Homo sapiens: one gene and its partner. The protein of the gene in region 2 interacts with the protein of the main gene of each other region in a biochemical or structural test. Each region holds a gene or a part of one and is shown on either strand. Other genes may lie near its edges.

The links. The genes of interacting proteins can lie anywhere in the genome.
Region 1: of the proteins of PTPN22 (region 2) and CDH2, one has a biochemical effect on the other in vitro, tested with the Homo sapiens proteins (one large-scale study listed by IntAct).

Annotation. Positions count from the first base shown.
Region 1 is NC_000018.10:28,170,537-28,174,188, forward strand, and holds part of CDH2 (cadherin-2 isoform 1 preproprotein), read right to left. Parts: intron 1-3,652. UniProt on the Homo sapiens protein: Calcium-dependent cell adhesion protein; preferentially mediates homotypic cell-cell adhesion by dimerization with a CDH2 chain from another cell. Cadherins may thus contribute to the sorting of heterogeneous cell types.
Region 2 is NC_000001.11:113,854,582-113,858,233, forward strand, and holds part of PTPN22 (tyrosine-protein phosphatase non-receptor type 22), read right to left. Parts: intron 3,436-3,652; exon of another isoform or gene 3,402-3,435; intron 3,196-3,401; coding exon 3,157-3,195; intron 3,077-3,156; exon of another isoform or gene 2,955-3,076; intron 2,144-2,954; exon of another isoform or gene 2,054-2,143; intron 2,039-2,053; coding exon 1,967-2,038; intron 1,861-1,966; coding exon 1,801-1,860; intron 469-1,800; coding exon 326-468; intron 1-325. UniProt on the Homo sapiens protein: Acts as a negative regulator of T-cell receptor (TCR) signaling by direct dephosphorylation of the Src family kinases LCK and FYN, ITAMs of the TCRz/CD3 complex, as well as ZAP70, VAV, VCP and other key signaling molecules.

The sequences.
Region 1 (3,652 bases), on a different chromosome or scaffold from region 2:
GGGTTTCACCGTGTTAGGCAGGATGGTCTTGATCTCCTAACCTCGTGATCCACCTGCCTTGGCCTCCCAAAGTGCTGGGATTACAGGCATCAGCCACCATGCCTGGCCCTCTGTAGCTTTTTTAGGTTCATGACTATTCCCAAAACATGAGGTGGCTTAACAATCGCTTTCTTGAACCTGAACTAGTAGAAAATGTTTTGTTCCCTACAGCAGGGGTTATTAAATTTAGCTTAACATTATGCCATAATTTCTTAAATCATTTCTTACTCATGGACTTTTAGAGATCAAATAATCCAATCTTTCGTAATCATAAGCAATGCTTCAATAAATATCTTCGTATATGTATCTATACCATGTGTTTGTCATAAATACATGCATACCTGTACCAAAAAAAAAAAAAAACTAGAGGAGGCCAGGAGCAGTGGCTCGTGTCTGTAATCCGAGCACTTCGGGAGGCCGAGGCAGGCGGATTCCCTGAAGTCAGGAGTTCGAGTCGAGACCAGCCTTGCCAACATGGTGAAACCTCATCTCTACTAAATATACAAAAATTAGCTGGGCATGGTGGCACACGTAATCCCAGCTACACAGGAGGCTGAGGCAGGAGAATTCCTTGAGCCCGGGAGACGGAGGATGTAGTTGAGCCAAGACTGTGCCACTGCACTCCAGCCTGACAGAGCGAGACTGTCTTTAAAAAAAAAAAAAAAAAAGCTAGAGGAAAACTTGACAAAGGGCTAGAGCTGTATTTTTAATGCTGACCCACTTATATTTTTAATGTTGACCCCCTATCACTCAATTCAATGGCTCTCCTGAAGGCTATCTTCTCTCAAAGAAACATGAGCTCATAAAACTAATAAAAAAAATTTTCTCAGTAATATTACACTTACCTTCATTTTAAGCCTAAAAATAATTTTTATTCTCAGTAATATTACACTTACCTTCCTTTAAGCCTAAACCCCTCCCCAAAATTGTTTACTTTTACTGGCAAAGGTAGCACAGCCAATGAAGAAAATTTTAAGTTTAAAATTCAGGCATATAAAAAATATAGATGACTTTAAACCTATCACGATAAACTACGGTTAATAAATCTTCAAAACTCACATTCTATCACTCCAAGTATCTGAAAATTCTTACATTTTCGGCTGAAAAAAGCCTTTCCACAACCTTCGAAAAGGAGATGTGTTTGAGATATTTTTTAAGTAGCCCCAGGAATCATGCAACTGGACAGTCTCTTAGAGATCAACTAATCCAACTAGGCCCAAGATTTTATTGTTGAGGAAAATGAGGTCACGGGACTTTAAGAGAGTAGACTACATCTGGACGAAATCAGAACCCCATGCTTCCTGCCCTGGACACTAGCTCTTGCCCTTGACACTACACAAGGGCATTCACTTACACAGATCAGTTATTATACTGTTGGTGCCTAAACCACCTTTCATGACATAAAGTAATCAATCAATTATTGATTGACACTTCATATCAGACTGTACTCAGTGTTGCAGGAGACTCATATGTATATAGCAGTCCTCAACATACATTTGGGGTGTGTGTGTGTGTGTGTGTGTGTGTGCGTGTGTGTATGCAATCCAAGGGCTTGGGGGCTGTAAGTACAGTTGGAAGCAGATGAGGAAGTGCACTGAGTACCAAAGAGTGAGCGACAAGGAATAAAAATCTAAGCAGAATTTAATCTAAATTTTCCTTAAAGAGACTATTATAACATAAATCATAATGTTTAAATCTACATCTTTCAAAAAGTCCCATTTAGCTTGTGAATTCACCTTGTTCTGCCTACTTTAGACCTATCACTTCATACATGCAGAAGATATAGCTCTTACTAAAACATTAATATGTATATACCTCTTCCTTGGCATGGATAAGGTTGTTTAATTAAAACTTACATGTATTTAGTTAAATACAAAGACTAGCATCTGCTCAAATTAACTGATGTCTTTTTCTGAAAAATTAAAATAAAAATAAAATTTTAGTAGAAAAAAACAGAAATGTGAGACACAGTGATTTGTTGGTACCAATTATGTTTCAACTTAAAACTCTTAACTTGAAAATACTTAGGTTCTAGCAAGTATACTGCTGTCAGAGCGAAATACTTATTCAGATGACAAAATCCAAATTTAAAAATCTATCACATTTTTAAATGGCTGACAAAAACCACCACCAAATCTAAGCAGTGCCTAAACTTGATTACTTTTTTGTATTTGAGCCAAAAGAACAAATCTGAATGTTAACCTGGGAAAAATGGTAGTGTATATACGAACACAACACTTCTTAAATAACAGCTCTGATTTTTAAAAATCACTCTTCTAACTTCATAATAACCCCTTGAAAAGAAGATGGGGATTTTAATCACTTAGGATTAAAAAAAATAGGATTTAAAGCAAGATTAACTGTTGCTTTAAGTCTTGACATTTCCCTATTAATAACCCTAAAGCTTAATGAGGCACAACAGATTTAAGAATTGAAATTGTTAATGAAAAAGAAAATTAAGGACAGTTTGGTGCTCTATACCATCATGAAAATAATCTGCTCCAGAAAGATTTTAGTCTCTACATGTAAAAAGCAAGAAATATCTAAAAAGTATTTCCTTGTAAAATCTCAGTCTGAACTTTTAGAAGGTTAGGGCAGACTTTGATGAAAGTATAAAAGTCAGAAAGTACCTATGGTTTAATATATAGTGTTTTAAAAACAAGTGAGGATACATAAAATACTGTTTTTCAAATTACACCTAGTATGTTTGTAACCTTTCACCTATTAGTAATGACCGCATGCCTCAAGTTAAGAAAAGCAAAGAAATATACATAACTGTGTCTAGTAAGTAAACTCTGAACACCAAGTTAACTCTTCTTATTTTCACAAGAACTTATGTTTCAAAAGCACATGAAAATCAAATAAATACTGAGAATAAACACGATTTACACTTAAAATCACTGCTGAATCCTTGCCACATTCTAGAACAAAGCTGCTTCTTTTTATGTATACTTCATATGTTGAATATTAATTTCTTTAAAATCTGTACCTAATAGGTGAAAAACACATAAGGTTTATCCATCGTTTTTCCAAGGTCCTCACGCAGGGTTGAAACCAGGATCTGTTAAGTCTTAGAAATGAATTTCTATGAACATTAAAATACTGTCCTAGATGCCCCATAACCCATACAAACGTATTTAAATTAGAACAATGGGGTTATGCAATTAAGATGTGAACTAGAAAAACAACACAGGTTTCTAATATATTAATTAACTAGGTCAATGGTAAAAGCAACATTGATTTTTTTTCTTAACAATAAACCTATGTAAAGATTTGAAAGTCACTTGTATTATTTAAAAGGAAAGCTAGTTATAACTTTGTGATATAATATTTTATACTTTTATCAGGTAAGCTGAATGCTCAAATTCGGATTTTTTAATATAAAAAAGGCTAACATCTTAAAATAAGACTAAAGAAAATCTTGATGTTGAACATCATAACATGCAAGATTGACTAGAATTATGTAAATCTACATAACAAGACTAACTAAACTAGTAATTTCTCTAAGTAAAATAAGGTACACAGACACTTCAGTTAACAATTCAAGGCACAGAGTCCTTTGAATATTCAATTATATTTAGCTTGTAAAAAAACAAGGGTGCTCCGTATCTGC
Region 2 (3,652 bases):
GAGAATGGACCATTGACAGTAGCTGGAAAATTTCACCAGCAGATTTGAGGAAGAAGATACCTGGGGACAATTAAACTTTCCAAACCCCACCATTTCCCAGAGCCCATTTGTCATGCAAGAGGTCCTAGGCAACATCTCAGAGCAAGAGTCTCTAGAACTGTACTACTCACAAGTAACTTATCAGAAAAACATGAATTTAATGCTTAGGTTGAATTTATTATCGTTTGTTTTTGCTATTAACCTTTTCCCCTTTCAATTACACAGTCCTGGCCAGACTCTGACATTTGGTTCATTTTGGGTAGAAGGTTTATATATAGTGTCATACCTGCAGTGAATGCATATGGGAACACTGTCATCCTCTTGGTAACAACGTACATCCCAGATGAGCTCAAGAATAGGGTCTATAGATGAAGGTACATCATGGTCTGGCCAATTCTTGTAATGAAACTGGTAGATAGTTCGAGTTTCCTATAAAAAGTAGCCAGATGGGAGGGGAAGAGGGGCAAGGGCTGAAAAACCACCTATTGGGTATTATGCTCACTACCTGGGTGATGGGATTATTCAGTGGCATGCATGCAACAAACCTGCACATTTACGCCCTTGTGTCTTATATTCATAAGATTAAAGTTGAGGCTGGGTGTGGTGGCTTACGCCTGTAATCCTAGCACTTTGGGAGGCCGAAGCAGGCAGATTACTTGAGGTCAGGAGTTCAAGACCAACCTGGCCAACATGGGGAAACCCTGTCTCTACTAAAAATACAAAAGTTAGCCAGGCAAGGTGGTGAGCACCTGTAGTCCCAGCTACTGGGGAGGCCACGGCACAAGAGTTGCTTGGACCCAGGAGGCTCAGGTTGCAGTAAGCCAAGATTGCACCACTGCACACTCCACACTCCAGACTGGGTGACAGAGCGAGACTCTGTCTCAAAAAAAAAAAAAAAAAAAAAAAAGTTGAAATTATTTTAAAAATAGCCAGGATAATAAGACAACTTGTGGTTAGAACTCCACCTCATTATACCAAGACAACAGTCCGGCATACTAAGTTGTATCTATATCCTTTTTGAAATTTATTCCGGTTTCTTCTCTATAGATCTCAGGTGACCAGATGCTTTCTGAAAACCATTAAAAGTGATTTCAGGTCACTTACTATTGGTTTGTCCCCATCTGCCCCATTCACAAGAGGAAATAGCTAGATATGAAAATAGTTCAAACCAGTGTTTCCCAACTGGTATGCCTCCAATGTGTCACAATCATGCTGATATATTAAATCTTTTTGCCTTAGAGAAGCTGGGCAGGGCCTAGGGCAGCCTAAGCTCTCAAACTGGTCCCCAGTCTCTATGCACTGTTCAGCTTCTGTTCACCCTACAAATATTATCATTTTATATGTGTGCCATGGTATAGAATAGATTGAAGACATATTATAACAATGGTCTCTTCTTTTTTTCTTCTTCTTTGAGACACAGTCTTGCTCTGTCACCCAGGCTGCAGTACAGTGGCACCATCTCGGTTCACTGCAACCTCCACCTCCAGGGCTTAAATGATTTCTCCTGCCTAAGCCTCTTGACTAGCTGGAACCACAGGCATGCACCACCACGCCCAGCTAATTTTTTGTGTGTTTTTAGTAGAGACAGGTTTTTGCCATGTCGGCCAGGCTCAAAGTTCTCTTGAATATGAAGACTCATTCATGACATCAAAGACCCTACCACTTCCCATTGTCTTATGCCCAGCCTGAGCTACACACATCTATATTTACTTGCCTGATCTCTATAGGCTTTTGAGTTTATCATTCTTATTTTATACTTACACTATTGAACTTAACTTTTAGAGTCCTGATTATATAATCAGATTTCCTTTTTTCAGCTTCCTAAAAAGAAAAAGAAGACTCAAGTATTAGTGATTGCAAAGACAAGCTCTCTATAAGGTAGACCCTGGAGGCTTTACTCAGACATGAGAACAGACATTACACTTACACAGGATACAGAGAAAGGGCCAAATTCCAGCTGCATCTCTCCTGGCTCAGCCCAGTAGCGCTCACACTTTTTCTGTTGCACAAAGCAGAATACAGTGATTTCCCTCCATATATTCTAGTCTTTTCCACTCTCTCATTTGGAAGCAAATTCAGCTCTATGTCCTTCACCTTAGGTTAGGTGCGTCTAACCCCTTTGGGCTTCAACCCCTACATTATTGGAATCTCCAAAGATGGGAAAACAAACATTAAAGGATATATAAATTACAGACTTCCTGGGAGTCTGAAAAAGTAGAAATAGAAATCTTTGACCTATTTTTAGTATTTCACAAGAACTAACAGAAATCATATGTCTACTAAAACAGCTGCACAAGCTAAGTGAAATACCTAGTTCCCTTGCTTTTGATTAGAATTGTCAACTCAGAATGGCAACAGTAGAACAGTGATATCCAGTAAAAATATAATGTGAACCACAAATGTAATTTTAAATTTTCAAACAGACATATTAAAAAATGAAAAGAGGTGAAATTAATTTTAATAACATATCTTAGCCCAATATATCAAAACATTCTGACATGTAACCAATATAAAATAATTATCAGATATTTGGCATTTTTTACTAAGTCTTCAAAATCCAGTGTATATTTTATATTTATAGCTAATCTCAATTAGGATGCCAAATTTTGGAAATATTTTATTTCCATTTAGATTTAATAAAACTTACATTTGAAAAATTTTCACATACTCAAACAGCTTTCTGATAACTGAATTGCATGTCAGTTTTTAAGTTTAAATCAATTAAAATAATTGAGTTCCCCAGTCACATTAGCCATATTTTAAATGCTCAATAGCTGTATGTGGCTGGTGGATGCAATATTGGACGGCACAGGATTAAAAGCTCTGGCTGGCAGTTAAAGATATCTAATTAATAGAAATGGGCAAGTGATTTGTTAATCTTAAAAGCATACCTTGTTTTTAACTGTAAAACATAGGGTCTACTGAGAAAACAAACAAATAGGATTCTTAGGAGAAAAAAAAAATCCTCTGAGAATCACGTGGCATTCCCAAACTGAAAACTATGAAGATGACATAAGTTTTATCTAGGTACACTCAGGTAAGTTCTGCTGCCAATTTCCCTCTCCTTTTTCTTCTTTCCTTTGTTTTAAGGTCAGCAGGTACTAGAAAGTAACTTACCTTTCCCATTTCATACTCCATGCATGCCATAACAATGATCTGGGGGATGAAATAGATAGAAACTTAAACATTCATATATAGTTAGAAAGAGCAGTTAATACATGGATCCCAGACTCAGAAAGTATTAACCGTTCTTTTTTCTGTTTTGTCGTTTTTTTTTAACCAAAAAATAAATCCTGGTGACTTATAAAATATTGCTGCTACTCTTCCTTCATTCTGACAATACTTCCCCTTTCTCTGTTCAGACCAGTAATCTTGTTACCAAATGAGCCTGTCAAGGTAAGAACTTTCTCATTTTTAAATTTATTTTTATTATTTTTTAAAACTTATTTATTTTTGAGACAGGGTCTCATTCTGTCACCCAGGCTGGAGTGCTGTGGCACAATCTCAGCTTACTGCAGTCTCAACCTCATGGGCTCAAGCGATTCTCCCATATCAGCTTCCCCAGTAGCTGGGACTACAGGCACACACCACCACTCCCAGCTAATTTTTGTAT